Linked DNA regions of Homo sapiens: region 1 is linked to region 2. The links come from fine-mapping of genetic effects on gene expression. Tissue or cell type: whole blood. Region 2 holds a variant in brackets; the other region holds the start of a gene. All regions are shown on one strand. Distances are between the middles of the regions.

Evidence for each region. PIP is the estimated chance that this variant, and not a neighbour inherited with it, causes the effect.
Region 1: it holds the start of C10orf143, and the variant in region 2 is fine-mapped to the expression of C10orf143 in whole blood (TOPMed, PIP above 0.99). The same link has a PIP of 0.9 or more in tibial nerve.

The regions. Positions count from the first base shown.
Region 1 is chr10:130,109,381-130,112,137 of GRCh38, reverse strand. It overlaps C10orf143 (chromosome 10 open reading frame 143), which reads left to right and starts at 1,308. Exons shown (of 4, transcript NM_001355042.2): 1 at 1,308-1,434. The coding sequence starts at 1,366. It overlaps LOC102724883 (a long non-coding RNA gene), which reads right to left and starts at 845. Exons shown (of 3, transcript NR_188169.1): 1 at 22-845. RefSeq lists enhancers at 4-133, 614-943, 1,804-1,983, 2,144-2,253 and a silencer at 1,234-1,613.
Region 2 is chr10:130,070,315-130,073,071 of GRCh38, reverse strand. The region is part of intron 3 of C10orf143 (chromosome 10 open reading frame 143); the gene reads left to right. Among named protein-coding and RNA genes, the nearest start is that of C10orf143, 39 kb to the left of the region's middle. The variant C/T (reference allele first, on the strand shown) is at 1,319.

The DNA of each region.
Region 1 (2,757 bases), 39 kb before region 2:
CAGGGCTTTGTCAAAGGATACCTTCAACTGCAGCAGAATGATGGACTCAAATCACAGAGACACGACAAAGTGACGGGTAGTCAGCTGTGGGTTGGTTCAGAGGCTCAGGCTGTTCCGGCTCTAGGTGATTTCCTGCTTTCCTAGGGTTCCCACCAGCTGCCCTCATGGTGACAAAAAGGCTGCTGCAGCTCCAGGAAACTTACACTGGGCAAGGACAACAGGAAGAAAACAGCCCCCACCCACCCAACTCCCCTTTTAACTAGAAGATCTTTCCCGAAACTCTGCCTCAACAGACCTCGCTTACTTCTCCCTGGCCCGTACTAGGTCGTGTACCCATCGTTAGCCAATCGCTGGCAACGGATTGGCCCCGTTTTAATTTATCCAAAAAAGGCGCCAGTCTGGGCTGTTTGGAGCAGTCAAGGGAGCTCCGTGCTAAGGCAGGAGGGGCCTGGACATGCGGCTGCAGGAGTCCGGGCCTCGGTGCCCTAAGATGAGGGCTCAGTGGTGCTCAGCACCGCGCCGGGCCAGAGACTGAGCCGCCGCCGGCTGTTGAGGGTTGGTTGGCTGAATCCCCGGCAGGGGCCAGGCGGAGCGAACATCACCGCGGCAACTGCCTCCACAGCACACACTCCCGACAGTGGCTGCGCTTTTCCCCTTCAGCACAGCCCAAAGGCCCCGGCAGCTCAGCACCTGCGACCTCCTAGTGCCCTCCAGCCTACGGAGGAGTAGAAGTCCTTCCGGGGCCTCCCAACCAGCAGCCACCAGCCACCAGCCACAAAAGCCGTGAGCCGCGCGGGGCTGGCCTGAAAGCTCTGCGTCTTCCCACCGCGGCAACAGCAGCTCCCACCCGGAAGCGAGGCAGCCCTGCGGACCACAACTCCCAGAAACACCCGCTGTCTCGCTCAAGCTAATTGACCCGCTGCGCCATCTATTAGCCAACCAGCCACAGGGAGACGGCTCCCCACGAGGCCTAACAACCAATCATAAGACAGAGGAGGCGGGCGCTCCTCCAGCCGATCCACGGGGTGTTGTCAAAAGTTTGGCGGGATCCTGAAAGAATGCTTTCTTTAGAGCCCCACGGCTGCTCCTGTGAAGGGAGAAGCGACAAGCAGAGATATGCAGGGACCTCTCTGCGAAGTAATGACTTGGGGCAGACGGACAACGCCCACAGCATCCCAATAGTCTCAGAAGACTCTGGTCTCTGCTACTCCTGCCTGCGGTCCTCGCCTTGGTGCTCTCGCGCTTCCCGCGGCGTCCCGCCCCTCCCTCTCCTTATTGGCTCCCCAGGGCCTTGTGCGGAAGGGGGCGTGGTGCGCGGGCCTCGGCCAGGCCTGAGATGCCGGGAGGGTTTGACCCTGGGGCTGCATGGACAGCTTAGCGCTCGGCCGCTGGCGACAGCGGAGGGCGGAGGATCTGCAGGTTCCGGGGGACGTGGTGAGCCCCCGGGGCCTGGGCGTTAGGGACGGGAGGGCGGATGGCCCCTGGGCGGGTTCCCACCGCGCCTCGTTTTTGCCGGCGCGGCCCTGCCTGTGAGGAGGCCTGGCCCAAGACACTCGCACGCTCGCGTACGTCCCTGGGAGGGCGTGGCCAGTGATGGGCGTGGCCTGTTAGGGCGGGGTTGTGACGCCGCTCTCCCGGTTTCGCGCCTGCGCGGTCGGGCGCGGAGCTCGGGCACCTTCCTGACCCACACGCTCACTGGGGCTCCAGACCCAGGCTCCCTAAAACATGGGCCGAGACTCATTGCAGGACCTCGGGTGCTTGGTATCCGTGTCATGTCTTCTCCTGCCGTCTACACCTGACTGTTCCTGAGTCTCGTTCACTGAGCGCCTGCCACGTGCCAGGCCCAGGGCTGGGTGTTGGGGGACGAGTACGTGGGGAGCGAACACGCGCAGAAAATTACCCGGCATTGAGCGTGTTAGTGCTTCTTGGGCTGAGTCCATTAACTGATGAGCAGAGGGTAAGATGAGATGGTAATGGGGAGACTTGCACAAGATCCCAGGGTGCGTGGGTAAGTCAGGTATGTGTGAGACTTGAAGGATGACCGGGGGTAGGCAGGATGGGAGGTGACAAAAAACAGTGTTGGAGGAAGGAGCTTAGCGTCTTAGGGGCACTGAAAGAAGTACTGCAGGATTGGAGCTGGAAGACAGAGCTGCTTGGCATTCCTGTATTTTATCTTCCACCTCTGCTTGCAAATTGGCCAGTTCTTACTTAACCTCGTTTATTTCAAAGTTCCTCGCTAGGGGCAGCAGTGAGCAGCCAACATACCGCATATTTGCTTTTTTTTTTCTTCTAGAGCTACACAGGCTTGGTAAGTGCAGGATCCGTCTTCCCAGTTAATACAGGCAGCATTTTTTTAGATGTCTTTACTGCGTAGCGGGAATGACTAGCTTTCTACCCTGCACCATCTCTTTCCTCACTACTCACTGCCTGGCCGTGAAGCCAGTACCACTTAGGTTTCTATCACAGCCGCACCCCTCCTCCAGGTACCAATTGTTATATTACTAGGGTGCAGGTTACCCCAGTAATATAGTAATAATATGGTATAGTAATGTAGTATAGTAATAGTATAGTACAGTAATATAGCAGGTTAGGGTGCTTTTGTAACCAAGAGCCTTCAAAGCACGCTGGCCCTAACAAGATGGAAGTTTGATTCTCCTGCACAGAACAGCATGGACGTGAGCAGTCCAGTGGGGTGGAGCCCAGGGTCACTAAATATAGGCGTAGGGCTGGTGGTACCCAGATCAGGGGATATGCGGG
Region 2 (2,757 bases):
AGAATCAAAGTCTCTAACAATCTGAAATAATTGAAGAACCTGAAGGTGGATATAAAGTACGGGCACAACTCATTTTATTGCACTTCACTTTATTGTGCTTTGAAGGTACTGTGGTTTTTACACATTGAAGATTTGTGGCAACCTTGCATTGAACAAGTCTGTTTGGTGCCATTGTCCCAAAAGCATATCCTCATCTCATGCTTCTGTGTCAGCATTTTAAAACAACAAAGTATTTTTAAATTAAGGTGTGTACATATTTTTAGGCAGAATGTTGTTGCACACTTAATAGACTACAAGCATATTGTAAACAAAACTTGTATATGCACTGAGAAACCAAAAAATTTGTGTGACTCACTTTATTGCAGTGTTCTGCAACCAAGCCTGCCATGTCTCTGAAGTATCCTGTAGTTATTTTATAAAATGATTAAAGAAGAAATAGAGCCATAGTAAGAAAGGAAGACAGTTTGAAAAAAAATTGGAAGGTTTTTTTAAAAAGAACTAAAAGTGCATGATATGTTCATTGAAGTTTTTTTAAAAAGTCATCAGATTAGACACAGTTAAAGACAGAATTAGTGAATTAGAAGATAGAGCTGGATAAATCCCCCAAGCACAGCAAGAGAGATAAAAAGATGGATAGTATAAAAGTGTAATTAGGAGTCATAGAGGAAAGAATGAGAATGCCCATTAGGAAATCCAGAAGGAAGGACTTTAGAGAATGTTTGAGTAGAATAGTTGAAAAGATAATGGCTGAGAATTTTCCAGAATTGAAGAAAGGCATATGTGGTCAAACAATTTTGAAGTAGAATAACAAGCAAGGGAAATTATCCATCAGATATCAAGATATATTACAAAGCTGTGACCATTAAGACAATGTGTTAATTGGCCTAAGTGTAGACTAACCAATGAAATAAAATTGAGATCTTTAAACATGCATATATGGCAGTTTGAAGGCATTATAAATGAGATTTACATACACCTATAAATTGTGCCAGGGCAATTAGTTATCCATATATGAGGAAAGATAAAATTAGATCTCTGCCTCACACAAAATCAATTCTAGGAGGTGGGAGGTGGGGGTGGGAGTTAATAAGAACCTATATATGAAAGAAAAACCTTTAACATTGTTAGTAGAAAATATAGAATATGACGGCCAGGCGCGGTGGCTCATGCCTATAATCCCAGCACTTTGGGAGGCCAAGGTGGGCAGATCACCTGAGGTTGGGAGTTCAAGACCAGCCTGACCAACATGGAGAAACTGCATCTCTACTGCAAATAAAAAATTAGCCAGGCATGGTGCATGCCTGTAGTCCCAGCTACT[C/T]GGGAGGCTGAGGCAGGAGAATCTCTTGAATCCAGGAGGCAGAGGTTGCGGTGAGCCGAGATTGTGCCATTGCACTCCAGCCTGGGCAACAAGAGTGAAACTGTGTCTCAAAAAAAAAATATAGAATATAACTGTATATATTAAGACATGCTACATATCAGAATTCTTTCATCATTGTCTAAGAAAAGCTTTTTGCAGGAAAGATATTTACAATGCACAAAATATAAAGATGGGTTTCTTGAATAAATATGCAAATCAGTCCAGTAAATAAATGGGCAAAGTATATGACCTGGCAGTTCAGAGAAGAGGAAACCCAAAATAGCCAATAAATATAAATAGGTGTTCAACCTTACTAGTAATTTAAGGGCTTGCAAATTAAACCATCAAATTAGCAAAAATAAAAATGGTGCTATAACTGTGAGTGAGGTAGAGTGAAAGGATGTGTTCACTTCCTCAGAAGCCATGTACATGGGTAAAGCTTATGGTGGGCATTTCTGGTAAGCTAGAAGATATGGTCCTAGGTGTATACCCTAGTAGATGCCCAAGAAAGTGTATACAAAATATTTGTTGTATTTGGGAGGCTGAGGCAGGCAGATCACTTAAGGTCAGGAGTTTGAGACCAGCCTGGCCAATATGGTGAAACCTCATCTCTACTAAAAATACAAAAAACATTAGCTAGGCATGGTGGCGCATGCCTGTAGTCCCAGCTACTCAGGAGGCTGAGGCAAGAGAATCACTTGAGCCTGTGAGGTGGAAGTTGCAGTGAGCCAAGATCCCACCACTGCACTCCAGCCTGGGTGACGGAGCAAGACTCTGTCTCAAAACAAAACAAAACAAAATATTTGTTGTTGCACTGTTAGAGTAAGAAAAGCCAGAAACAACCTAAATGTTCATCAATAGAATGAATAAATGAATTGCAATAGATTTACTCAATGAAGTGTTACAGAGAGCAGTGAAAATGGATCAAATCAAATGGAGAAAAAAGGAAATTACAGAAGGATCTACGTAGAATGATACTATCTAGATACAATTTTAAGCATGGGAAACATTGATATATATCTACTAAAGGAATAAAAACATTTATGAGAGTGGTAAACAACTTCAAAATAAGGGCGTTATTTCTACTGAGTGGAAGGGCTCAGGGTGCAGTGTTTTGGTGATATCTAATGTTTTATCCCCTAAGTTTTGTGAGTCTTGGGTGTGATGTATCCACACATAGATAGGTCATCATGACACTGGAGGACATCAAAGGCAGAGAAACGTGTAGAGCTGCTAGAGAGAAATGACTGGCTAAGCATGAAGGGATGATAATTTGACAACAGATCTCTCATTAGTAGCAATAGATGCCAGAAGAGCTTGGAATGCATCTTTGAGCTGCTAAGGGGACTGCACTGTGACGTGCATGTGGACAGGCTGCACCAGGTCCGGGGGTGCGATGG